5 separate regions of the Homo sapiens genome follow, and all the other regions are linked to region 5. Evidence: fine-mapped expression QTL. A gene starts in region 5. Each other region holds a variant in brackets. All regions are shown on one strand. Distances are from middle to middle. Region 1 overlaps PTDSS2 (phosphatidylserine synthase 2). Region 2 overlaps ANO9 (anoctamin 9). Region 3 overlaps PKP3 (plakophilin 3). Region 4 has its middle 6.1 kb from the start of SCGB1C1. Region 5 holds the start of ANO9 (anoctamin 9).

What was found. PIP is the estimated chance that this variant, and not a neighbour inherited with it, causes the effect.
Region 1: its variant is fine-mapped to the expression of ANO9 in whole blood (TOPMed, PIP 0.91).
Region 2: its variant is fine-mapped to the expression of ANO9 in whole blood (INTERVAL, PIP 0.96).
Region 3: its variant is fine-mapped to the expression of ANO9 in whole blood (TOPMed, PIP above 0.99).
Region 4: its variant is fine-mapped to the expression of ANO9 in putamen (GTEx, PIP above 0.99).

What each region holds. Positions count from the first base shown.
Region 1 is chr11:484,183-489,279 of GRCh38, forward strand. It overlaps PTDSS2 (phosphatidylserine synthase 2), which reads left to right. Exons shown (of 12, transcript NM_030783.3): 5 at 2,757-2,891; 6 at 3,238-3,288; 7 at 4,017-4,130; 8 at 4,347-4,465. Among named protein-coding and RNA genes, the nearest start is that of RNH1, 21 kb to the right of the region's middle. RefSeq lists an enhancer at 155-676 and a silencer at 3,686-3,826. The variant TA/T (reference allele first, on the strand shown) is at 2,673.
Region 2 is chr11:417,063-422,159 of GRCh38, forward strand. It overlaps ANO9 (anoctamin 9), which reads right to left. Exons shown (of 23, transcript NM_001012302.3): 16 at 4,079-4,136; 17 at 3,883-3,980; 18 at 3,656-3,798; 19 at 3,401-3,553; 20 at 2,520-2,667; 21 at 1,826-1,927; 22 at 1,658-1,751; 23 at 876-1,527. The coding sequence ends at 1,309. It also overlaps a transcript of SIGIRR not described here. Among named protein-coding and RNA genes, the nearest start is that of SIGIRR, 4.6 kb to the left of the region's middle. RefSeq lists a silencer at 120-169 and an enhancer at 3,808-4,669. The variant T/G (reference allele first, on the strand shown) is at 2,105.
Region 3 is chr11:401,468-406,558 of GRCh38, forward strand. It overlaps PKP3 (plakophilin 3), which reads left to right. Exons shown (of 13, transcript NM_007183.4): 9 at 1,611-1,796; 10 at 2,151-2,304; 11 at 2,476-2,668; 12 at 2,769-2,856; 13 at 3,067-3,441. The coding sequence ends at 3,102. It overlaps SIGIRR (single Ig and TIR domain containing), which reads right to left. Exons shown (of 10, transcript NM_001135054.2): 9 at 4,882-5,071; 10 at 4,249-4,592. The coding sequence ends at 4,429. Among named protein-coding and RNA genes, the nearest start is that of PKP3, 9.8 kb to the left of the region's middle. RefSeq lists an enhancer at 4,055-4,748. The variant C/T (reference allele first, on the strand shown) is at 2,078.
Region 4 is chr11:184,453-189,549 of GRCh38, forward strand. It overlaps a transcript of SCGB1C1 not described here. Among named protein-coding and RNA genes, the nearest start is that of SCGB1C1, 6.1 kb to the right of the region's middle. The variant C/T (reference allele first, on the strand shown) is at 2,930.
Region 5 is chr11:439,978-445,074 of GRCh38, forward strand. ANO9 (anoctamin 9) reads right to left here and starts at 2,034. Exons shown (of 23, transcript NM_001012302.3): 1 at 1,944-2,034. The coding sequence starts at 1,949. It overlaps LOC105376506 (a long non-coding RNA gene), which reads left to right. Exons shown (of 5, transcript XR_007062542.1): 4 at 1-3; 5 at 508-696. It also overlaps the pseudogene RN7SL838P. RefSeq lists silencers at 1,808-1,887, 1,932-2,226 and enhancers at 2,058-2,327, 2,635-3,432.

The DNA of each region.
Region 1 (5,097 bases), 44 kb after region 5:
CAAATTCTTTTGCCAAAAGGAATTTCCACGTGGTTCCTGTATTGCTTTCACACACCCTCACGGAGTTCTTGGCTTTTCGTTTTGTTTTTCTGAGGACATCCTGACTTCCTAGCACTGCGGGATGCTCCAGGCTCCTCCTGTCCACTCCCCACCCTGGTCCTGGAATCAGCCCCTTCTCCAAGAGCCTTGGGTCCTTACTGAATATTAGGAACTGAGGCCTGGGTGTTGGGTGGGCTGCGTGGTCCTGGGTGCCATAGCTCACAGAGGACGGGCATGTGTGCACTCACTGTGTGTGCAGGCGTCTGTAAACACAGCCAGTGCAGGGGTGCGTGTGTGCTGTGTGCGCAGGAGAGTGTAAACAGTGCACGGGCGCGTGTGTGCTCACTGCGCAGGCATCTGTAAATAGTGCATGGGCGTGTGTGCTCACTGCGCAGGCATCTGTAAACAGTGCATGGGCATGTGTGCTCACTGTGTGCACAGGCGTCTGTAAACTGCACGGGCGTGTGTGCTGTGTGTGTGCAGGCGAGCGTAAACAGTGCACGGATGCGTGTGCTCACCGTGTGCGCAGGCGAGTGTAAGTGCACGGGTGTGTGTGCTGTGCGCAGGCGAGTGTAAACTGCACGGGCGCGTGTGCTCACCGTGTGCGCAGGCGAGTGTAAACAGTGCACGGGTGCGTGTGCTCACTGTGCGCAGGCGTCTGTAAACAGTGCACGGGCGTGTGTGTGCTCACTGCGCAGGCGAGTGTAAACTGCACGGGCGCGTGTGTGCTCACTGTGTGCGCAGGCGAGCGTAAACTGCACGGGCACGTGTGCTCACTGCGCAGGCGAGCGTAAACAGTGCACGGGCGCGTGTGTGCTCACTGTGTGCGCAGGCGAGTGTAAACTGCACGGGCACGTGTGCTTACTGTGCACAGGCGAGTGTAAACAGTGCACGGGCGCGTGTGCTCACTGTGTGCGCAGGCGAGTGTAAGTGCACGGGCGTGTGTGCTCACTGCGCAGGCGAGTGTAAACTGCACAGGCGCGTGTGTGCTCACTGTGCGCAGGCGAGTGTAAACTGCACGGGCGCGTGTGTGCTCACTGCGCAGGCGAGTTTAAACAGTGCACGGGCGCGTGTGTGCTCACTGTGTGCGCAGGCGAGTGTAAGTGCACGAGCGCGTGTGTGCTCACTGCGCAGGCGTCTGTAAACAGTGCATGGGCATGTGTGCTGTGTGTGTGCAGGCGACCGTAAACAGTGCACGGACGCGTGTGTGCTCACCGTGTGCGCAGGCGAGTGTAAACAGTGCACGGGTGTGTGTGCTCACTGTGCAGGCGAGTGTAAACTGCACAGGCGCGTGTGCTCACCGTGTGCGCAGGCGAGTGTAAACAGTGCACGGGCGCGTGTGCTCACCGTGTGCGCAGGCGTGTAAACTGCACGGGCGCGTGTGCTCACTGCGCAGGCGAGTGTAAACAGTGCACGGGCGCGTGTGTGCTCACTGTGCGCAGGCGAGTTTAAACAGCGCACGGGCGCGTGTGTGCTCACTGCGCAGGCGAGTGTAAACTGCACGGGCGCGTGTGCTCACTGCGCAGGCGAGCGTAAACAGTGCACGGGCGCGCGTGTGCTCACCGTGCGCGCAGGCGAGCGTAAACAGTGCACGGGCGCGCGTGTGCTCACCGTGCGCGCAGGCGAGCGTAAACAGTGCACGGGCGCGCGTGTGCTCACCGTGCGCGCAGGCGAGCGTAAACAGTGCACGGGCGCGCGTGTGCTCACCGTGCGCGCAGGCGAGCGTAAACAGTGCACGGGCGCGCGTGTGCTCACCGTGCGCGCAGGCGAGCGTAAGCAGTGCACGGGCGCGCGTGCTCACCGTGTGCGCAGGCGAGTGTAAACAGTGCACGGGCGTGTGTGTTCACCGTGTGCGCAGGCGAGTGTAAACACAGCTGGTGCCCTGGTGCGTGTGTGCTGTGAGCACAGGTGTCTGTAAATGATGTAAACCTCCCTTGACGTCAGGCCCAAAAGCCTGCCTTGCCCTAAGGTCAAGAGGTGTATCTGGCTGATGCCAGCGTCTGGGTGAGGAAAGAGCAGGTTCCACAAGGGCGACTCCTGTGAGGGTGTTGGCCTGAGCGCGCATGCGGGGAGGGGTCGGGGTGGGGGCGGCGCGCCGCAGTAACTCAGGGCCCCATCCCGCTCCCGTCTGTCCAGCGGTCCTAGACCCCCATGTCCTGAAGCGCACCTGTGCCCACCTGGCCCCGGGGAGCGCAGGTGTGGAGATGGGGTGTCGTGCCTGGGGGTTCCTTCCCCACGCGCTGCCCCACCAGGATTTCCCTGGGGTGGGGAGGGCTGCTGAGACAGGGCGCTGCCCTCCTCCAGGGTGACTGAGATGCAGTTTACAACCATGATCTCCTGGCCGGGCGTGGTGGCTCACGGCTGTAATCCCAGCTCTTTGGGAGGCCGAAGTGGGCGGATCACGAGGTCAGGAGATCAAGACCATCCTGGCTAGCACGGTGAAACCCCGTCTCTACTAAAAATACAAAAAAAAAATACTAGCCGGGCGTGGTGGCGGGCGCCTGTAGTCCCAGCTACTCGGGAGGCTGAGGCAGGAGAATGGCGTGAACCCAGGAGGCGGAGCTTGCAGTGAGCCCAGTTCACGCCACTGCATTCCAGCCTGGGCGACAGAGCGAGACTCCATCTCAAAAAAA[TA/T]AAATAAATAAACAACCATGATCTCCCGTTTCAAGTTGCCACCACTAACTGTAGCCCCGCTGACGGGGGCACTGGCCTTGCAGACTGTCCAGGACGGCCGGCAGTTTCTAAAGTATGTTGACCCCAAGCTGGGAGTCCCACTGCCAGAGAGAGACTACGGGGGAAACTGCCTCATCTACGACCCAGACAATGAGACTGACCCCTTTCACAACATCTGGGTAAGACGCCGGGGGCCCTGAGGCGAGCCCCTCCCCAGGTGTGGCCCCGTGCCGGACCAGGCGCCATCCACGCTCCTGCCTCGCACCCCTCAGCCCACACTTGGGGTCTCCTGGTGCAGAGATGTGCTGAGGCCCTGTCCGTCTGGATGGTGCTCATGGTGGGCAGGGGGCCCCTGCTCTCTAGGCTGTCGTGGACGTGGTCTCCACAGGCCACGGCAGCACCTGTGAGTCCCTGGCCTTCTTCCCGGGGTCTGGCAGGTGCTGCTCAGGTGTGGGCTGATCTGCCGGTGTGGGGAGTGGGGGTGGCTGTGCCCCAGGGTCAAGGGTCATACCCTGTCGCCCACAGGACAAGTTGGATGGCTTTGTTCCCGCGCACTTTCTTGGCTGGTACCTGAAGGTACGGCACCTCCTCTTCCCGGCCTCCCCGCCCCGGTTCTGAGGCCTGCCGTGGGCTCTGGACCGTTTCTGTCCATGGAGTTGAGCTCAGGGTGCTCTGAGTGTGGTGGGAGGGTGTCGCACTGCAGCCACCCAGAGGTTCGAGAAGCCGTGGGGCTCCCGGACCTCCCAGAAGCCCTGATCCTGGTCGGGTCCCCGCTCCGTCCTCAGGGTCGGGGCGGTGGAAAGAGGCGGCAGGGCAGGAAGTCCCGCCCCTGCCTGGGCTTGGGCACTGCCCCATCCCACTTCTGAGGGACCCTGTGCTACCTATGGGGCTAAGAGCAGTGCCTGCTTGACCCTGCAGCCCACCCTGGCAGAGTTTGGTGTCAGGCCCCGGGCACGGGGATGCTGCCTTGTTTGCTGACAGTCGTACATCGAGGCTGCTGGAGGGGCAGCCACCCACCCCACGCTCACCCTGAGACCTCACTGGGGGCCCTGCCAGTGCTGTCGACTCCAAGAATGCTGCCAGCCGGGGTGGGGGCTGCACGCACCCGTGGGCAGGGCCGGGCGTGGCCTGCGTCCCATACTCTGGCTGCCAGCCGGGTGGGGGCTGCACGCACCCGTGGGCAGGGCCGGGCGTGGCCGGCGTCCCATACTCTGGCTGCCAGCCGGGGTGGGGGCTGCACGCACCCGTGGGCAGGGCCGGGTGTGGCCGGCGTCCCATACTCTGGCTGACCCTGGCGCCCACAGACCCTGATGATCCGAGACTGGTGGATGTGCATGATCATCAGCGTGATGTTCGAGTTCCTGGAGTACAGCCTGGAGCACCAGCTGCCCAACTTCAGCGAGTGCTGGTGGGATCACGTAGGTGCCAGCACAGCCCCCGGGGCAGTCGGTGCAGGCTGAGGGGCATTCTCGGAACCCCTGTGCCCAGCGCGGCCCCTGGACCCCCTCATTCTCCCCGGGGGGCAGTGGGTGCAGGCTGAGGGGCATTCTCGGTTCCCCTGTGCTCTTCCGGGGTCCTCCTCGGGGGGCTCGTTACCCCTCACCCCTGCAACGAGTGCTGGCCCCTCCCTGCAGTGGATCATGGACGTGCTCGTCTGCAACGGGCTGGGCATCTACTGCGGCATGAAGACCCTTGAGTGGCTGTCCCTGAAGACGTACAAGTGGCAGGGCCTCTGGAACATTCCGACCTACAAGTACGTCGTGGGGGCTGCGAGGGCAGGGCCGGGTGGGGGTTACCTGGAGGCAGCCTCAGCGTCCGTGCTCCAGCAGACCCCGAGCACCAGGCCCGTCCAGTGTGCGGCTCAGGAGGGGTGACCGTGGGGCTTTGCCTCCTGGAACCTCCCTCTGACCTGGTGTCACTCAAGCCCGGCCGCCCCTCACAGTGGCCATGGCGTCTGACCCACGTACCTCCCTCCTCAATCCCTGGCCGGCCTGGCGCAGGGGCTGTGGGATCATTCCGTGCTTCTCCCTCCCTTGGTTGCTTTGGTTATGAAATAGTTGCAGGTACTTTGTCATTATGACTTTGGAATTTAAAAAAGAAACAGAAGTCTAAGGAAAGGCCTGGGGGACGGGGGTCTCCCCTCCTGCCTGTGGGTGCCCCGGCTCTGCCTGGCTCTGCAGACATGGCTAGCTCACGGCACCGTGGAGCGCCCTCTGAGGCGCTGCAGCCACTGCTCAAGCTGGAAGAGACTGAACAGCAGAGGGCCGTGGAGAAGCAGGGCTTGTAGCTGGGTGGCCAGACCTCGGAGAACAGCCGGGCAGCAGCTGGGTAACCAGGAACAGAGTCTGTGGCCCGATGGCACAGGGCGGGGCGGGGTGACCAAGA
Region 2 (5,097 bases), 23 kb before region 5:
CTGACCACGTCGGGCAGAGGAAAGGGTGGCCCCCGCCCCCTTCGCCCACTTTCCTCCCTTCCCCCAGCCCTGGAAAGGGCCAGGACGCGGGCGAGCTCGGGCTTCCGGGCGACGCGGGAACCTCCCCGGCCCCGAGCCATTTCCTGAGAGACCGCGCCCAGGGACAAGCAGCGCCCCGGGCCCCGACTCCAGGCCTGCAGCGGCTCTGGGAGGACTGCGACCTCCACTCACCTTCGCGGGTCTGATGGCGACCGCCACTCACCTGCTGCCAGGACCTGGGGCTCGCGCCGGGCGGGGGCGGGGCAGCTCACCTGAGCCAGGTGCGCAGCGGCAACAGCCCCGGCGGCGGCGTAGCCCCGGCAGCGGCAGCAGGTGCGGCCCCGCCCCGCAGTCAGGGCGGGGGCGGACCCCAGCGTCCCGCTCTGCGCCCAAGGCTGGCGCTGGAGGCTGCGCTGCTGCCCGGGAGCCGCTGCCGCACGGGCCTGGGGCCAGTGGCCAAACCAGCCCAACCAGCGCGCAGAGCCCCGGAGCCCCAGAGCCTTGGGGACTCTTCGGAGCGTCCACCGCCCTCAAGGTTTTGCGCGTCCGCCCCTATCTCTTCCCTTTCCTCCAGGAAGCCTGCCTTGACCCCCACCCCACCCTCAAGTGGCCCCGATGTCTTCTCTTGCCTCCCTCAACACCCCAGGTGCAGGGACGGGGAGAGGACCCCATAGGCGCCCCTCCCTTGGAAGCCCATGGAAAACTGGAGAAGGGACAGGCGGCCTGAGGCGGCCTCACCTGGTTCCAGACGTTCCACACTCCGGGTCTGTTTCCCATCTAGCCCTGAGGGCAGATATAATCCACCCGGGACCCAGCGAGGCCAGGAAAGCAAGACAGACAGGCTTAATTTTACTGCAGAAACGGGTTGGCTGAAGGGAACAGGCCAGCGAGGTGGGCTCAGGACACCCCCAACAGCCAGGATGGGGGCACGGCAGGATCTGGCGCCCAGAAGTCAGAGGGAGGCCCAGGAAATTTGCGCCAGTTTTCCTGCCTTGTGGCTGCCTGAGGAGCCCTCACTCCCAGTTCTGTGGGTGCCCAGGGTCACCCAGAGTTCAAGTCAGGGCTGTGCCAAGCCTGAGAGCCCCCACAAAGACGGAGCAGGCGGAATAGGGTGGCAGCTCACAGCCCTGAACATACAGGGGATTCCTGCGGCCCCACATGGGCACAGCCTTCTCACAGCACCCCTCAACACGCACAGCGGTGGGCTTGTGGGAGGTGCTGGTGGTGGCACTGTCTCAGCTCCTGGTGGCCTCTGGACGGGCTCTGGCCCTACACGTCTGTGCTCCTGGCACTGAAGATGGATGCTGGGGTGGGATGGGCAGGCATTGGGGGCCGAGAGCCTGCCCCCACCCCACCCAGCCTCTGCCTTCCATGCCACATCTTCTCACGCAGCCTCTGGTACTTCACCTCCAGAACCTTGTTCTTCACCGACTGAGGGATGTCGGGCACGAACCAGGCGGCGATGAGCTTGATGCACAAGGCCACGTGCTAGCGGCAGCACAGGAGAGGCCCAGCACGGTCAGGTGCCAGCTGGCATTTGGGGGTTCAGGGCCGGGGAGAAGGACTGGGGAGAGCACTGCCCAGACCCACTCCGAGGCCTCTCCCGGTTCTGGCTCACCTCAAAGAGGATGACGAAGGCCAGGCGGATGGCCAGGAGGAACCAGAACTGCTCGGAGAAGTTGTAATCGGGGGGATTGCGGTAGTCCCTGTATCTGGGGTAAGGAAGTACCTGAGGTCAGGGGTCAGGAGTTCAGAGGGCATTCTTGGGGGATGGGGAGTTCCAAACCTGCACAGAGTCACGTTTTCTGAGCCCTCAATCCCATCAGGGTCCTGGAAGTCCTTGGTGTGGAAGACGGACAGGCTGTGGTTGACGTAGCCCTTGAGGCAGCTGGGGAGAGGGGAGAGGAGTGTGGGGTGGGGTGGGCTTCCAGGGCGGCCCCTTCAGGCCCCAGAGTGCTTCTAGCCTGCGTTGTGGAGCAAACAGTGAGGTGGGGGCCACGCCACAGACTGCGTCCAGTGGGACGGGGCTCCCGGGCCAAGCACATCTTCACATCCGGGGGCCTTG[T/G]GGGGACTGTGGGGACTCTGGGCATCACCAGCCACTTTCCCTGCCAGAGACTGGCCCTGGGGACCCAGTCTGCAGTTTGGTGGCTCCTCGAGGTCAGAGAGCTGGATAAATCAGAAGAGGACATGCGGAACCTCACATCGGGAGGGAGCCGTTCTGGCAGGGCCTACTCAGGAGGCAGCCAGGTCTGGGAACTTCACCCCCAACTGCGGTCCTGGCCAGTTATCCCTGACCTCCAGCCCAGGGCCTGCCGTCAGTGGGCGCAGGGCAGGGGCCACCCCCAGGCCCCAGCCTCACTAAAGCCCCAGGGGTACCAACAGGTCCAGCCATTCCCAGGAGAAAGGGTCTGGATCCCCCAGGGCTTGGCTGTGGTAGGGCCAGTTTCTCCCAGGGGTCTCCAGACACCCTGAGGCCTTACTCGACAGTAGAGTTGCCTTCTTTCAGGCATGGGCTATAGCGGTACTTGTAGACCACTCGGGGGATGAACTCAGATGTGAAGGCAATGACCATCCCATTGGCAATGACCGCCAGCACACCGATGGTCTCCAGCACCTGCAGCCAGGTCCCTGCACCAGAGCAGTGGGCAAGCGGTCTGACTCAGCGTCCCTCGGCTGGTTCTGCCCTCACCCCCACCCCCGGCCAACACGGGGCCTGCCGTGTCTCTGTGCGTGGTGTCCCCTTGCAGCCCTAGGGCTGCAGTATTCACAAGGAAGTCCCCAGCCATGGCAGAGCATGGCCTCTGCGCTCCTGCACCCCTCACCCTGACATGGACAGGGAGGAACCTGGGAATCCTCATCCTCCATCTTCCTGAACTTCTCAGCTGTGCCCCCCAGCCACTCCACCTCCTGGGTTCCCACCCCAGGGTAAGACCTTGTAACCTGGGCCCGAGACTGGGGGCCTCCCTAACACCTCTCTCCCTTTCCCCACATCCAGCGCCCCAGCTCCCGTCGCTCCCCTGCTGCCTGTCCGTCTCAGCGTGGCCAGTCTTGGGACAGAGGCCGGCTGCTCTGTTCCAGCCCCAGCCACTGGCAGAACCTGGGTCCCCCTTGGGGGCGTCAAGCCCCTCTGAGATCCTGACGGTTTGTGGGAGGAGCCTACAAAGCGCTCGGCCCCGCCCACTCCTGGTACCCTCCCACCCAGGCTCAACCCGCATCCGAGGCCGTCGGAGAAGGGCTGGGGGCTGTCTGCGGCCTGAGATCCGAGAGATTATTTTTTCCAGGTGAGCCGGCCTGGCCAGCGGGAAGCCCACAGGCCTGAGGCCGCCCAGTTCCCGCCCATCCTGCGCCCGCCCGGTCTGACCGATGTCCTTGGCCTTGCGCGGCACCAGGCGCCGCTGCAACCAGACCATCTTGATGGCGTCCAGGCGGATCTCCACGAGGTTGCTGAAGAGCGCGAGCAGCGGCGCCAGCGGGAAGGCGGCCACGAAGATGGTGGTGAAGCCGTACTGGATCACTGCGCGGTGGGGGTCAGGCTCACCGGCGCCCCGCACTCATGTCCGCGGACCCCCGCCCCGCATTCGTCTCCGCGAACCCCCGCCCCGCAGCGCCCACGCACTCATCTCCATGAACTCGTCGAACAGGCTGAAGGTGTTGACCGGGTTCAGAAGGTAGTTGCGCCGCCAGTCCCTGAGCTCGGGGTCCCGGGGCAGGTGCCCGGACTCGGAGGCCCGCAGAGAGCGGCACTTGTGGGTCACCCACCTGCGGGGAGAGCTGCGTGGCAGGGAGGGCGCAGGGGGCGGAGGGGCCTGGGGCTCCCGGGGCTGGGCGGGGGTCGGCACTCACGGGACCAGGTACTCGACGCAGTTGCTGAGCGTCTGCTTCAGGCCCATGATGATGGCCATCTGCACGAAGAGGTCCATCATGCAGCCGCTGGCGTGGCACTGCGGGGCCAGACAGGAGGAGATCAGGGAGGGGTCCTGGGGGACGGTCAGGGGAGCAGTGGCTCAGGGACAGGGCATGAAGCCTGGGGGTGACTGACCTCTTCCAGCTTCCACAAGCCCGCCAGGCGCGTGGACTTCCCGGGGTGGCCGTTGATCCTGGGGAGGAAGGGGAAGTCTGGGGCACTGCGGGCAGCGCCCTGCCTCTGACAGGGTGGGTGCAGCAGGACAGAAGCGGGTAGGAAAGACACAGAACAGGCGGGGCAGGCCCTGCAGGTGAGCGGGGCACAGGTGCTCACACCCAGATGAACCGCACCCGCACGTGGGCACGCACACACACACACACACACACAGGGGAGGCCACAGGCTCCCAGATGAACCGCACCCACACGTGGGCGCGCGCACACACACACACACCCCCACACAGGGGAGGCCACAGGCTCCCAGACGAACCGCACCTGCACGTGGGCGCACACACACCCACACACACACAGGGGAGGCCACAGGCTCCCAGATGAACCGCACCCACACGTGGGCGCGCGCACACACACACACACCCCCACACAGGGGAGGCCACAGGCTCCCAGACGAACCGCACCTGCACGTGGGCGCACACACACACACACAGGCAAGGCCACAGGCTCCAACACACGCTCCAGACAGTGTCTGTTACGAGTGGCCTCGGTTTCTCCCCGTGGAAACGGCACGATGGGTTATTTTGTGTTTAAAATCACCTGCTTTCCATAATATGAGAAATACATGAACTATCTTAAACCAAAAGTCAGGCTCATGGTCAGTGGTGAAATCCCAAAAGCATTCCTATTGTAGCTCACGACAACTGGTATTTAACACGGTTCTGGAATTCCTTGCAAATAAGCAAGAGAAATATGAAGTATAAATAGTATACATTTGCAAAGAAAAAAATGACTCTTTTAGAAAACATGATTATGTACCTGGAAAATCAAAATAAAACAACTGAAAGCCTGGGTGGATAAATCAATCGAGTGCTCAAGTGGATACAAAACGAGCATCCAGCAGAACTGGCTTTTCCGTGTGCGGCAAAGCTGCGGGGAAACATGGCATGAGAAAGTATCGGTCACCCGCAGACACCAGCACAAGT
Region 3 (5,091 bases), 39 kb before region 5:
ACACCCGCCCCGCTCACCCCCGGCCCCGCTCACCCCCGGCCCCGTTCACACCCGCCCCGCTCACACCCGCCCCGCTCACCCCCGGCCCGCTCACCCCCGGCCCCGCTCACACCCGGCCCCGCTCACACCCGCCCCGCTCACACCCGGCCCCGCTCACACCCGGCCCCGCTCACACCCGGCCCCGCTCACACCCGCCCCGCTCACCCCCGCCCCGCTCACCCCCGGCCCCGCTCACCCCCGGCCCCGCTCACCCCCGACCCCGCTCACCCCCGACCCCGCTCACCCCCGCCCCGCTCACCCCCGCCCCGCTCACCCCCGACCCCCGGCCCCGCTCACCCCCGACCCCCGGCCCCGCTCACCCCCGGCTCCACTGACCCCGGCCCCGCTCACCCCGGACCCCGCTCACCCCCGACCCCCGGCCCCGCTCACCCCCGGCTCCACTGACCCCGGCCCCGCTCACCCCGGACCCCGCTCACCCCCGACCCCCGGCCCCGCTCACCCCCGACCCCCGGCCCCGCTCACCCCCGGCTCCACTGACCCCGGCCCCGCTCACCCCGGACCCCGCTCACCCCCGACCCCCGGCCCCGCTCACCCCCGGCTCCACTGACCCCGGCCCCGCTCACCCCGGACCCCGCTCACCCCCGACCCCCGGCCCCGCTCACCCCCGGCTCCACTGACCCCGGCCCCGCTCACCCCGACCCCGCTCACCCCAGACCCCCGGCCCCGCTCACCCCCGGCTCCACTGACCCCGGCCCCGCTCACCCCGGACCCCGCTCACCCCCGACCCCCGGCCCCGCTCACCCCCGGCTCCACTGACCCCGGCCCCGCTCACCCCGGACCCCGCTCACCCCCGACCCCCGGCCCCGCTCACCCCCGACCCCCGGCCCCGCTCACCCCCGGCTCCACTGACCCCGGCCCCGCTCACCCCGGACCCCGCTCACCCCCGACCCCCGGCCCCGCTCACCCCCGGCTCCACTGACCCCGGCCCCGCTCACCCCGGACCCCGCTCACCCCCGACCCCCGGCCCCGCTCACCCCCGGCTCCACTGACCCCGGCCCCGCTCACCCCGACCCCGCTCACCCCCGACCCCCGGCCCCGCTCACCCCCGGCCCCGCTCACCCCGACCCCGCTCACCCCCGACCCCCGGCCCCGCTCACCCCCGACCCGCTCACCCCGACCCCGCTCACCCCCGACCCCCGGCCCCGCTCACCCCCGACCCGCTCACCCCGACCCCGCTCACCCCCGCCCCGCTCACCCCTGCCCCGCTCACCCCGGGCCCCGCTCACCCCCGGCCCCGCTCACCCCGACCCCGCTCACCCCCGACCCCCGGCCCCGCTCACCCCCGGCCCCGCTCACCCCCGCCCCGCTCACCCCCGCCCCGCTCACCCCGGGACCCGCTCACCCCGACCCCGCTCACCCCGGACCCCGCTCACCCCCGCCCCGCTCACCCCGGACCCCGCTCACCCCCGACCCCCGGCCCCGCTCACCCCCGCCCCGCTCACCCCGGACCCCGCTCACCCCCGCCCCACTCACACCCGACCCGCTCACCCCGACCCGCTCACCCCGACCCGCTCACCCCGACCCCGCCGACTCCTCCCCGCCCTGCGCAGCTGCCCCTCGCCGCCGATGCGCTCACCTTCGCGGAGGTGTCCAAGGACCCCAAGGGCCTCGAGTGGCTGTGGAGCCCCCAGATCGTGGGGCTGTACAACCGGCTGCTGCAGCGCTGCGAGCTCAACCGGCACACGACGGAGGCGGCCGCCGGGGCGCTGCAGAACATCACGGCAGGCGACCGCAGGGTGGGGCACCCAACCCAGACCCGAGGGGGTCCCAGGGGTTCATGCGGTTGAGGGGGGGACAGAGGAGGGAGAGGGAGGGGAGGAGGAAGGGGACGCCCAGGGTCCGCGGAGCCTCGGAGGTCAGCGTCCCGGTGGCGCAGGCCTTGGGCCTTGGGAGGATGGAAGTCCTGCCCTGGGTTTGAAGGGAGGCACCTGATCCGGGCTGCGGCTGATTCCCCCCGGCTGGGGGGCAAAGGCAGAAGCAGAGGCCCCCCTGAGGGTGGCGAGAGGATGCAGCGACC[C/T]CATTGTGGCAGGACCCCCTCAGGTGAGGGTCTGAGGCCTCCGGGTCACGGCTCACACCCTCCCTCCCCACAGTGGGCGGGGGTGCTGAGCCGCCTGGCCCTGGAGCAGGAGCGTATTCTGAACCCCCTGCTAGACCGTGTCAGGACCGCCGACCACCACCAGCTGCGCTCACTGACTGGCCTCATCCGAAACCTGTCTCGGAACGCTAGGAACAAGGACGAGATGTGTGAGTCGGGCAGCCCCTCGTCCCTGCCCTGCTGGACCCACATGTCAATTTTGTCTTTAAGTGTGGGCTTCAGACCACTGGGGCCAGTCCAGCTCCCTGGGGGAGGCAGGGGACCCCAGGTGCCCAGGTGGCCAGGAGTAGGGGTGCAGACTGACCCCCGGCCTCCCACAGCCACGAAGGTGGTGAGCCACCTGATCGAGAAGCTGCCGGGCAGCGTGGGTGAGAAGTCGCCCCCAGCCGAGGTGCTGGTCAACATCATAGCTGTGCTCAACAACCTGGTGGTGGCCAGCCCCATCGCTGCCCGAGACCTGCTGTATTTTGACGGACTCCGAAAGCTCATCTTCATCAAGAAGAAGCGGGACAGGTAGGGGCCGACCCAGCCGTGCAGCAGCCTGGTCAGGGGTCCTCCCAGTCCACCCTGCTTTCTGGCTGTGTGTCCCCTCCTGACTGCCCTCCACCCTCAGCCCCGACAGTGAGAAGTCCTCCCGGGCAGCATCCAGCCTCCTGGCCAACCTGTGGCAGTACAACAAGCTCCACCGTGACTTCCGGGCGGTACGTTTCCCGAGCCCAGGGCAAGCAGGGACCCGGGTGCAGGGCATGGGACGCCGGGGGAGGGTCAGTGAAGAGGCCCATGGGAGGATGGAGACCAGGGACCCAGAGAGGAAGGGTCCGGGCCACACCCAGCACACTGCAGGAGGGACAGCGGGCAGAGGGCCACATGGGCAGACATGCACCCTGACCTTGGGCCTCTCTCCACTGTAGAAGGGCTATCGGAAGGAGGACTTCCTGGGCCCATAGGTGAAGCCTTCTGGAGGAGAAGGTGACGTGGCCCAGCGTCCAAGGGACAGACTCAGCTCCAGGCTGCTTGGCAGCCCAGCCTGGAGGAGAAGGCTAATGACGGAGGGGCCCCTCGCTGGGGCCCCTGTGTGCATCTTTGAGGGTCCTGGGCCACCAGGAGGGGCAGGGTCTTATAGCTGGGGACTTGGCTTCCGCAGGGCAGGGGGTGGGGCAGGGCTCAAGGCTGCTCTGGTGTATGGGGTGGTGACCCAGTCACATTGGCAGAGGTGGGGGTTGGCTGTGGCCTGGCAGTATCTTGGGATAGCCAGCACTGGGAATAAAGATGGCCATGAACAGTCACTGCCCTGTGTCCTTCCATGGCTGGCCCGACCCTGTGGCTGGCAGCATGATCCTGGGACTCAAGGTGTCCCCAGGCACCCCCTGCCCCTGAGGACACCCACCCCCTGGGCTCACACACAAGCCTCCCAAGATCAGAGGACATAGGACATGGAGAGCCCAGCAGAGGGACAGCTGGCACCTCAGGGCCGAGAGGGGACAGGGTGGACAGCGGGTGCACCACAGGCACAGACGGAGCAGAGCTGGGGGCCTCGAGAGTAGAGGGGTGACTGGAGTAGGAACAGGGTGGCTGCCTCGTGGGCTACACTCATGCGGCAAATGAACCCAACTCCTCCGCCGCCCACCCTGGGCCTGGAGTTGCCTGGACCAGGGGCTCTCACACTGGCTGCCTGAGGTTTGGGGTCCAGTGGGCTCTCGGACACCCCCATCCATCTCACCCAGAGCCAGGCCATTTAGTTGTGAAGTTACTGTGGATATTCTTAAAACAGAAAGTTTCTGTGAAGCTCAGAACTTGAGGTCTCTAAGGAGCCTGCCCCCATCCAGGATCTGCCTGCATGGGAAGGGTCTAGGAAGAGTCACGTCCCCAACCAGGGACCAGGCAAGGAGGCCCAAGGAGGCTACTGTAAGCACGGGACACGCCTGAGCTGGCTTAGGAAGGGGGATGGAGAGAGGGCAGATTTGGTGATTTGGCGGGTGGGGATGAGAGAGGGAGGGGTGGGGATGAGAGAGGAGGGGTGGAAGGCTGAGAGAGCCGCAGAGGGAAGCCGAATCCGAAACCTTCCGCCGCAAGGGAGGAGACCGAGGCCCCAGCAGAATCCAAAAGGACTTTATTTTCTGGCACTGGGAGGCGCCCTGAGGCCACAGCCTTTTCCCAGGGCTGCTGGCAGGGTCCCAGGGCTGCTGGCAGGGGTTGTGGTCCTGTTGAGCAGAGGAGCGACGCCGCTGCCCTGGCCCCCGCTGTCCCTATGATCCTGCACTCTGGGGTGGGAGCTACATATCATCCTTGGACACCAGGCAGTAGAAGTCTGTGCGGGCACTGTAGTTTCGCGAGCCGAGATCCGAGACGTCCACTTCGCTGCTCCGGCTCTCTCCCAGCGAGACCCCACTGGTGTGCGGTGGAGCTGATGGCTCTCCAAAGACAGGCCCCCGGACACCTGGGGTGGGGAGACCGAGACGCCTGAGGTGGCCACCCACAGCCTTGGCCCAGACCCACTGCCAGGGGCTGCCCCTGCTCACCCCCTGCTGTGATGGCCTGTGAGGCCCAGGAAGTTCCCAGGCAGACCGAGGGCCGAGCACCTCCAGGGCAGAGGCCGTGCAGGGGCTCCCGGTGCCGGGAAGAGTCCTCAACACCTGGAGCCCCTCCAGGCCCTGTGCCCTGTGCCTGCCCCCACTCCGCCCTGTGCTGAGCTTCTCCAGTTGGGGAGTGGGGCTGGGCGGGCATACCCAGGTCGCCCTCAGGGTCCGGGTCCACCTCTGAGTCCAGGGCCCGGCCCTCAGGGACTCGGCCTCGAAGAATCAGCATGGGGTCCTTGTCGTCCTGCAGCTGCGTCTGGGGGTCTCCTTCCACAGGCCTGTACTGCACCTTCCGCGGCAGCGCCAGCTGCACTTCTTTCCAAAAATCGGAGGAAGGAGTCTGGGGGCCAGGTCGGGGCG
Region 4 (5,097 bases), 260 kb before region 5:
CTGCCAATCAGAAAAATTTTAAATGTACCTATAACCTGGAAGCCCCACCCCCCAACCCTAATCCATTGGGTTGTCCCACCTTTCTGGACCGAACCAATATATATCTTAAATACACTTGATTGATGTCTCCTATCTCCCTAAAATGTATAGAACCAACCTGCACCCCAACGACTTTGGGCACATGTTCTCAGGGTCTCCTGAGGGCTGTGTCAAGGGCCATGGTCACTCATATTTGGCTCAGAATACATCTCTTCAAATATTTTACAGTCTTTGACTCTTTTTGTGGACACACTACACATCTGCTCTGCTTCCCCCAAACCCCTAAACCCAGGCTGATTATGAGAAAAACCCCAAGTAAACCACAATGGAGGACATTCTACACAATACCTGACCAATCCTCCTAACACTGTTCCAGGTCCTCAGAAGTAAAGTCTGAGAGACTGTCACAGCCAAGAAGAGCCTGACATGATGACTAAATGTCCTATGGGATCCTAGATAGGATCCTGGGAGAGAAAAAGGCAGAACTAAGGGAAACCAAATAAGATGTGAGCTTATTTAATAATATAGTAATATCCAGTCATTAAGTATGACAAGAAATGATGTAAGATGTTGGTCAGGAGTGGTGGCTCATGCCTGTAATCCCAGCACTTTGGGAGGCTGAGGCGGGCAGATCACCTGAGATCAGGAGTTCGAGACCAGCCTGGCCAACGTGGTGAAACCTCATCTCTACTAAAAATACAAAAATTAGCCGGGCATGATGGCAGGCGCCTGTAATACCAGCTACTCAGGAGGCTGAGGCAGGAGAATCGCTTGAACCTGGGAGGCGGAGGTTGCAGTGAGCCGAGATCACGCCACTGCACTCCAGCCTGGTTGAAAAAAAAAAAAACCTGGTCTGGAAAAAAAAAAAAAAAAAGATGTTAAACCTATCTGATACATGTTGATATGTTAAAAAGAGGGGAAACTAGGTTGCGTCTACATGGGAAATCTGCATTTTCTTCCCAATTTCTGTATGAATCTAAAACTAATTTAAAATAAAACCTCTATTTAAAAATTGTAATTTTTTCAGATATCTGCTAAATTATTTGTACTAAAAATTAGTAATTGACAGTAACTACTCCTACTTTTAAAAATAAGAGCATTCATGATACTGCAAAGTAAATTATACAGACTAATATATACTTTCAAAGAAATGCCCCTTTTACATGTTTTATGTTAAGATAACATATATGTGTAAACATGGTCATATCATTTTTCTTATGGTGTAGTTCACTCTCTAAGAAAGCTGGTCATCTTAGAACCAGGGAAAAAAATTCACATTTTGGAGACTATTTCAATTTACGGCTGGAAGTTTTCAAAGTATGACTTTGTGAAAAAAAAAAAAGTTCAAATTGATTCATTGTGACTGGATCACTTATTCTAATGAATGCTTGTCTTTATTTTGTTTCCCAGCATTCCTTTCAGCTACGATACAACAGAAGCAAATATTTGCCACTGGAAAAAATATTCAAAGACACTCTTAGGTTAATCTATAGCTGATGACAGTCAGTCTAGTCTACATAGCAAGCAGCTTCAAGATATGATTACTTAGCTAAGAGGGAAATGGGACGTGACTGCTGCCTCATTCCCACGCCTCTCTGGACCTGATAATTTAGAGGAAGCTCACATTCGCAAGATAAAAATTTTCTTTTCTTTCTCAGTATTAAATATGCTGTCACAGTAGAAGAAAGCTTTACTGACTTCTTAAATGATGTGTTGAGACCGGAAACCTAAAATGATAGTTACTGAGAATACTGCTAATGCCCTAAGACCGGAACCCTAAAATGATAGTTACTGAGAATAGTGCTAATGCCCTAAGACCGGAACCCTAAAATGGTAGTTACTGAGAATACTGCTAATGCCCTAAGACCGGAACCCTAAAATGATAGTTACTGAGAATAGTGCTAATGCCCTAACACCGGAACCCTAAAATGATAGTTACTGAGAATACCGCTAATGCCGTAAGACCGGAAACCTAAAATGATAGTCACTGAGAATACTGCTAATGCCCTAAGACCAGAACCCTAAAATGATAGTTACTGAGAATAGTGCTAATGCCCTAAGACCGGAACCCTAAAATGATAGTCACTGAGAATACTGCTAATGCCCTAAGACTGGAACCCTAAAATGATAGTTACTGAGAATACCGCTAATGCCCTAAGACCGGAACCCTAAAATGATAGTTACTGAGAATACCGCTAATGCCCTAAGACCGGAACCCTAAAATGATAGTTACTGAGAATAGTGCTAATGCCCTAAGACCGGAACCCTAAAATGATAGTTACTGAGAATACCGCTAATGCCCTAAGACCGGAACCCTAAAATGATAGTTACTGAGAATACCGCTAATGCCCTAAGACCGGAACCCTAAAATGATAGTTACTGAGAATACCGCTAATGTCCTAAGACCGGAACCCTAAAATGATAGTCACTGAGAATAGTGCTAATGCCCTAAGACCGGAACCCTAAAATGATAGTTACTGAGAATAGTGCTAATGCCCTAAGACCGGAAACCTAAAATGATAGTTACTGAGAATACCGCTAATGCCCTAAGGTTTTAGTCACACCCTCACCTAGGCAGGAACCCAACCAAAAGGGGAGAACTGTGGAACAAACTACGGGAGGTCATTGTTTCGGTCACCACTCCCGCACTAGGCCACACTGAGCAGGCAAAATCAGAATGGAGACACTCACGCTGAATGACACACAACGAAGCTGAAACTCTAAGGAAGTAGATAGATCCCAAAAGAGCTCCCTTTTTCCCTGAAGAGATTCCAGTCTACCTGAGTCAGCATAAAGAAGTCCCCTCTGCTTTAATTCTTACCAAAACAAGTAACTTGAAGTAATCTGATATTAACAAATCAGTTGTTATTTTCTATTGCTCTATTTCCGC[C/T]TTACACAACACAGTGTTCTGCTATTGCCCAGAGGGCACTGAGACCAAATAAAACTTGAAAATGCCACACTGAAAGCAAATAAGTCCTAATAACTCAATTTACAACGACAACAAAGAGTGACACCAATGCCCAAAGTTTTGATCAATATCTCAAAATTGAGAGGCTGACCAAAAGGGAGGAATTCTTACATCAAACAACATTTGGGCTCTGGAAGCCTCCCGAGGAGTCCTTGTAAAGAGTCGCGGCCGGGCGCCGTGGCTCACGCCTGTAATCCCAGCACTTTGGGAGGCCGAGACGGGTGGCTCATGAGGTCAGGAAATCGAGACCATCATGGCTTACAAGGTGAAACCCAGTCTCTACTAAAAAAAAAAAATACAAAAAAATTAGCCGGGCTTGGTGGCGGCAGCCTGCAGTCCCAGCTACTCGGGAGGCCGGGACAGGAGAATGGCGTGAACCTGGGAGGCGGAGCTTGCTGTGAGCTGAGATCGCGCCACTGCACTCCAGCCTGGGCGACAGAGCGAGACTCCGCCTCAAAAAAGAAAAAAGAAGAAGAACAAGAAGAATCGCAACCTAATTTAGTATAGAAACAAACTGAAAATCTGACTTGGGAATGTATCATGGTAACAAATAGCGGCGGTTCAGCCAATCACATCAGCCGAGTGTCAGTCAATGGCCGGCAGCCAGCTGTTCAAAACAAGTTCCAAGAAGGCAAATCCGGGCTGTAACCAGGTCTGTAACCAATCCAGCCACCTCTATACCTCACTTCTGTTTTCTGTATGTCACTTTTTTCCTCTGGCTATAAATATAACCCGCACATGTTGTGTGGCAGATCATTCTGAACCATTTTTGGTCTGGACTGCTGCCTGATTCTAGAACCACAAAAAAAAGCCAATTAAGATCTGCAAACCCACATTTGTTGTAATTCTGTATTTTAACAGTTGTGCCCTACAAAAGACATTAAGCTGAAATTAATTAAAAATCATTTACGGTCATGATTAGGTCATAAAAAATTGTCAAACATAACAATTCTTCAAAAAAAGCTAAAAAGTATATTTTAAAAATATTGTTGATGGAAAAAAGAGTGCAAAAGTAGATAGGAAAATTATGTACAAAACTAAAAACAGAGGAGAAATTAAAAGTCAAATAATTGCATCAAACTGGAAACCTAGAAAAAATGGGTGATTTCCTAGTAAAAATACACATTAACAAAATGGGCCCTGAAATAAGGCAACTATGAATATACCAATTAGCATAGAAAAGCTAAGAAAGGTCCTTAAAGATCTCCCAGTGGAAAAAGGCCCCAGGACCATCTGGGTCCATAGCTTAGTGTAAGCTGACTTAACTAAATGTGATTTTACACTCGTGCATTGCATACATATGATGGTGGTCCCATGACATAAAAATGGAGCTGAAAAATTCCTTCCTAGCCATCTTGTCATAAGCTCATGGCTCAACGCATTACCTTTTCTCTGTTCTGATACCATGAAAGGAAAATAAATCTCAGGACCCCCAAATCACTAAGCCAAGGGAAAAGTCAAGCTGGGAGCTATGTCAGGCAAACCTGCCCTCATTCTATTCCTAACTAAGATAGCTACAAAGATAAAAAGCTACATACCTCACTCACAATTTGCCCACAAAGAATTTCCTTTTGGACAAAGGACAGACAGCACTCAAAGTCATCCCTCACCTGAGACAGATGCATATCTGATTGCTTCCTCTGCCCTATTATTTATGTAAAAATGCAGATTCATTGAGCCAGACTAAATTGTGTATTCAGTGGAAGGCTGATGAAGGATTCAAAAGAATGCAACCTTTTGTCTCTAACCTACTTCTGACCTGGAAGCACCCCCACTTCCTGCTTCCAGTTGTCCCGCCTTACTGGGCCAAATGACTGTACATCTTACACGTCTCATGTATCCCTAAAATGTACAAAAGCAAGCTCTACCCTGGCCACCTTGGACACACGTCGTCAGGACCTCCTGAGGCTGTGTCATGGTCGTGTCCTTAATCTTGGCAAAATAAGCTTTCTAAATTGACAGAGACGCGGCGCGCCGGCGCAGGCGCACAGAGGCGCGGCGCGCGGGCGCCGGCGCACAGTGGCGCGTCCCCTGGGGGGCGGGGGGAGGCGCGGCGCAGGCGCAGAGACGCACGTCGTTAGGCTGTGGGT
Region 5 (5,097 bases):
CAGGTGAGGAGGCATGGAGCTTGGCATTGTAGGGCAAGAGGTTGGCAAAAGGTGAGAAAATGGGGGCAGCATTCCCGGGAGAAAGAACATGTGTGGGCACGCCCTGAGAATCAGGGTGCAGTTGGTGTCTGGGACTCAGCAGTCAGCACCTCCCAGGGACTCAGCACTCAGCACCTCCAAGGAGGACTTGGTAGCTACTACTCCTGGTGACTCAGCACTCGGCACCTACGGAAACTGAGTCCAGGGACTCAGTCCTTGGTACTTCAGCTTTGCAGAAGCATAAAGGGCAAGAAGGGAGCTGCCAGAAGGGGAGGCTGGAGGTTGGCAGAGGCCAATCAGGGGAGGCTGCTAGGCTTCTTGGCCAAATGGAGAGCTTGGACTTCAGCAGGGGGCAGTGGGGAGCCATGGAAGGGGTTAGAGCAGAGGAAAGGCACGCCCAGATCCAGCCTGGAGCTGGGACTAGCAAGTCCTCCCCATGTCTGCAACTGTCCTTTTTGATCACCACAGGAGTTTTGACCTGCTCCGTTTCCGACCTGGACCGGTTCACCCCTCCTTAGGCAACTTGGTGGTCCCCTGCTCCTGGGAGGTCACCATACTGATGTGCGGACAGCCAGTCAGCCTAACACACTACAGCCCAGAACTCCCAGGCTCGAGCAACCCTCCTGCCTCAGCCTCCGGAGTAGCTGGGACCGCAGGCTCATGCCACCACGCCCGGGTTCCAGCAGTCCTCCTGCCTCAGCCTCCCGAGTAGCTGGGAGCGCAGGCACGCGCCACCACGCCCGGGTTCGAGCAGTCCTCCTGCCTCAGCCTCCTGAGTAGCTGAGACTGCAGGTGCATGCCACGACGCCCGGGTTCAAGCAATCCTCTTGCCTCAGCTTCCGGAGTAGCCGGGACCACAGGCATGCGCCACCAGGCCCGGCTGCAACTGTCTTTTTTGAAGGACTGATGCTCTCACTTCCAACAAACCAGGTGCTGCTTCTCCCAACCCAACCCCTGGCCAGCCCCAAGTCTCTCCTCTAACCCCCAGCATGGGAGGAAGGGGCTGGCAGAGGGGACCCTGAGCTCAGGCTAAGGGGCATCAGGTGCTGGGCTGAGCAGCCAGGGTGTCAGACCTGGATGTGGAGGGCCGAGGAGAGCCCTGGGCGGAGATGGAGCAAGAGGCCGCCGGCGCAGCCCACACGTGGAGGCCCTGGCAGGCCGAGAGGGAGGCTGGTTTCACTCCACACCTCACCACTGCCTCCTCCCTGGGCCGACCAGGTGCTGACCTGCCCAGGTGTTGGCCCTGGCCCCAGGTGACCTCTTCACTGGCAGAGGGGAGAAAGGATGTCTTTCTACGTGTTCACCTGCACTCCCTCCCCCAGAATCGGAATCCAGCAGCAGCAGTCAGCGCCCACCCCCAGAATCGGAATCCAGCAGCAGCAGTCGGCCCCCACCTGTGCTGGGCGGGGTCCTTGGGGAGCAGAGAGCCCACAGCCCGCCGGCCACTCTGCAGCTCCCAACCCTGGGGCAGCCTGCCTGGTGCCCACAGCCCGCTCCCCCTTAGGGGCCAGCTGCAAGGCAAAGCTGCCAGGTCTGGGGTCCTCAGCAGCAGCCCCCGCCTCGGTGGGCAGGCCCTCTCCATCTCGTGTTCAGGACTCTGGTAGAGGTTCCTGGCCCCACACACTAGCTGAGAGCCCAGCCCTGGTGCCCTCAGAATCCCGGGCTGGAGGGAGGAACGCCGCCCGCCTCCAGCACTTCCAACCCCCAGCGTGCCCCAGGAGTCCAGGAGGCAGCTTAGCTGAGCCGGGCGGTCACCCTCGCCTGACCGGGCAGCCTGCAGGGACCCCCCCCACACACACAGGCGCCTTCCAGGTGGGGCTGGCGGGGGGCTGGGGCCGGGGGCCCCAGGTGTGGGCGTGGCTGGGGGCCTTGAAGGTGTGGACCCTTTTGAGCGCAGGACTCACCTGCATGCTGGCTGTGGCCGGAGTTCCAGCTGGGGTTTGGCGGCCAGGAGAGTGGCTGCCAGCGGCGGGTGCTCCTACCTGACTTCCGCGTGGGGCTCGCCCCTCCCTCCTCCTCCTCCAGCGTCCTGCAGCTGCCGCGCCTGGGTGTAGTCGGGGCGGAGCCAGCATCCAGGCCAGGAGAGTACCCCAGCCCCTGGAGCCTGGGACACCTTCCTGGAGCCCAGATGGCGGGTCAGGGGCCAGAGGGGAATTCCTAGGCTGGAGTTCCCGGGAAGGGGGTTTCCACTGTGAGATGGGTCTCATGACACCTGGTCCTAGGGGGAAGCAGGATGGCACAGAGCCCCTGACAGAGCCAGCACCAACGCCCCCACTTGCCTTGCCTCTCTCACCCCCGCTCACACATCCCCATGTTCCCTCCAAAAGCATCCCACCCCAGGCCATGCCCCCCACCCCGGGCCACGGCCCCCCACCCCGGGCCACGGCCTCCCCCACCCCGGGCCACGGCCTCCCCCACCCCGGGCCACGGCCCCCCACCCCGGGCCACGGCCCCCCACCCCACAGGTCCAGTGCTGATTCCCTTAGAGGAGAAACTGGGGCAAGGAGGACTGACGACGAGACAGACTCCCAAAGAAACTGTCTGCTCCTACCCAAGCCCCTGCTTTCTGGGCCCCACTGGGGAATCCTTGGAGTCCTGGGGACACGTGGCTGGCCCCAGGCTGTGTAGACAACGGAGGAGGAGCCCTCCACCCCGCATCCCCAGTCCCTGAGCACGTTCTGTGCAGCCTGGGCTGAGGGCGGCAGCTGGGCAGGCTCTGGGTGTCCTGAGAGTGACCGTCCAGTGGAGTGCCCTGAGGAGGGAAGGGCTGCGGGGAGTGGGGGCCCAGGCCGTGGGCTGGCACACATTATCTGCAGCGTGTGTGGCGAGGAGTCTGCTTCTGAAAGCTGCTGCAAAGCTGGGGAGGCAGGGCCAGAGCTCCGCAGGCAGACGCTGTCACACGGAACGGCTCCAGGCCCACTGGGGCCAGAGCACCCCCCGGCAAGCCCAGCAGCCCTCTGCTGTGGTCCAGGCCCAGGGCCAACAGTCGGCTCTGGTTTCCCCAAGGGGTAACATGGTCCCACCCATGTTTCTCCTTGGGGGACCTCCTGGCAGGCTGGGATGGCAGCAGAGACCACAGCTTTGCCACTTTGGCAAAGACAAGCGAGTGAAGTGGTGGCCGAGGACCTGTGAGCTCAGATGGGGCAAATCCAAATGGAACACATTCAGATCTGTGTGCAAAATGGTGGTGGCTTAAACAAGCTGTGTATTTCTCCTATAAGTGAAATCTGGAGTTGGCCGGGCGCAGTGGCTCATGCCTGTAATCCCGGCGCTTTGGCAGGCCGAGGCGGGTGGATCACCTGAGGTCAGGAGTTCGAGACCAGCTTGCCCAACATGGTGAGACCCCGTCTCTACTAAAAATACAAAAATTAGCCAGGTATGGTGGTGCACGCCTGTAATCCCAGCTACTCGGGAGGCTGAGGCAGGAGAATCGCTTGAACCTGGGAGGCAGAGGTTGCAGTGAGCCAAGATCACACCACTGCACTCCAGCCTGGGTGACAGAGTAAGACTCTGTCTTTAAAACAAAGCAAAACAAAAATCTGGAGTTGGCTAGTCCTGGACTAGTATGGCCGAACTATAGTCATCAGAGACCCAGAATGCCTTCAGCTTGTTGCTCTGCCACCTTAAATACATGGTCCCAGCACCTGGTCCAAAATGACTGCTCAAGCTCCAGTCATCACATCCACGTTCCAGCCAGTGGGAAGAGGAAAGGGCGAAGGAGGGAACCTCACCCTTCACATGGTTAGTCACGTGACCACACTCTATGGCAAGGAAGCCTGGGGCATGTGAGCTCTTTTCCCATGGAAGAAAGCAGGGTAAGCGGGAGAGGGAACATCCGGCAGTCTCACCAGGGGGTCACAGCTGCCAAGTTAGATCTAGTTCAGAAACAGAATGTGCAAGGCTTGTTGAGTATGGGAGGAACTCACACGCAAGATCCACGTTCCCAGCCCCTGCACCGTCCGTGACGGGTGTCGCTCCCCAGTCCCCAGCTCAGCCCGCTCAGGGGTCTCTGTGCTCATGTTTTCACACTGTGTTAAAACAATCTTCGGCTGGGTGCGGTGGCTCATGCCTGTAATCCCAGAGCTTTGGGAGGCAGAGGTGGGTGGATCACGAGGTGAGGAGTTCAAGACCAGCCTGGCCAAGATGGTGAAACCCCATTTGTACTAAAAATACAAAAAATTAGCCAGGCGTGGTGACAGGCGCCTGTAATCCCAGCTACTCAGGAGGCTGAGGGAGGAGAATCATTTGAACCCGGAGGGTGGAGGTTGCAGTGAGCCAAGATCGTGCCACTGCACTCCAGCCTGGGTGACAGAGTGAAACTCCGTCTCAAAATAAATAAATCAATAAATAAATAATAAAACAATCTCCACGTTTTCAGTGTGTTAAAACAATCTGCTAGCAGGTCATGTGAGTTACTCAGGCGCCACTTCAAGTGTCCACACAGCTGCTGTGCTCTCTTTCAATGACTTTTTCAGCATTCCCAGTTGCGTTGCAGAAACACTGTTCCTCCTCCCCCCACACCTTCCGTGGGCGTCACCAGAGGAATCCTCAGTCACTTCCAGAGTCCTGGCTGTAAAGCCAGCATATCCAGCTTCAGGGGAGAGAGCTCAGCGAGGCGGCTGCATTGGCCGCTGGCCTCACCCAGCGTGGAAGTTCCCTTACGATCAGTGAAGGGTGGAGAGGGAGGGGGACCCCACCCAGTCCTATCTGGACAGAAAACCAGTACAGCCCTTTCAGAAAGCAATTCAGCTATAATACGTATTAAGAGCCTTAAAATTGTTTAGACTTTGGTTCATTAATCTAACTTTTTGTAAACTGTTCTAAAAAAATGCAAAATAATGAAAATATGTATATATGTCATTTGCAGCAAAAATTGTAAACCACCAATGTTCAACAATAGGAAAATATCAGCGAAAACATGGTATTCATATTTATATGCTGATTAAGCAGACATTAGAAGTTATACTTTCAAAGAGTTTTTGAGAACATAGGAAAATGCTTATGTTATACTGCTAAGTAAAAAAAACAGACTACAAACATATAAAAATTTTTCCTAGA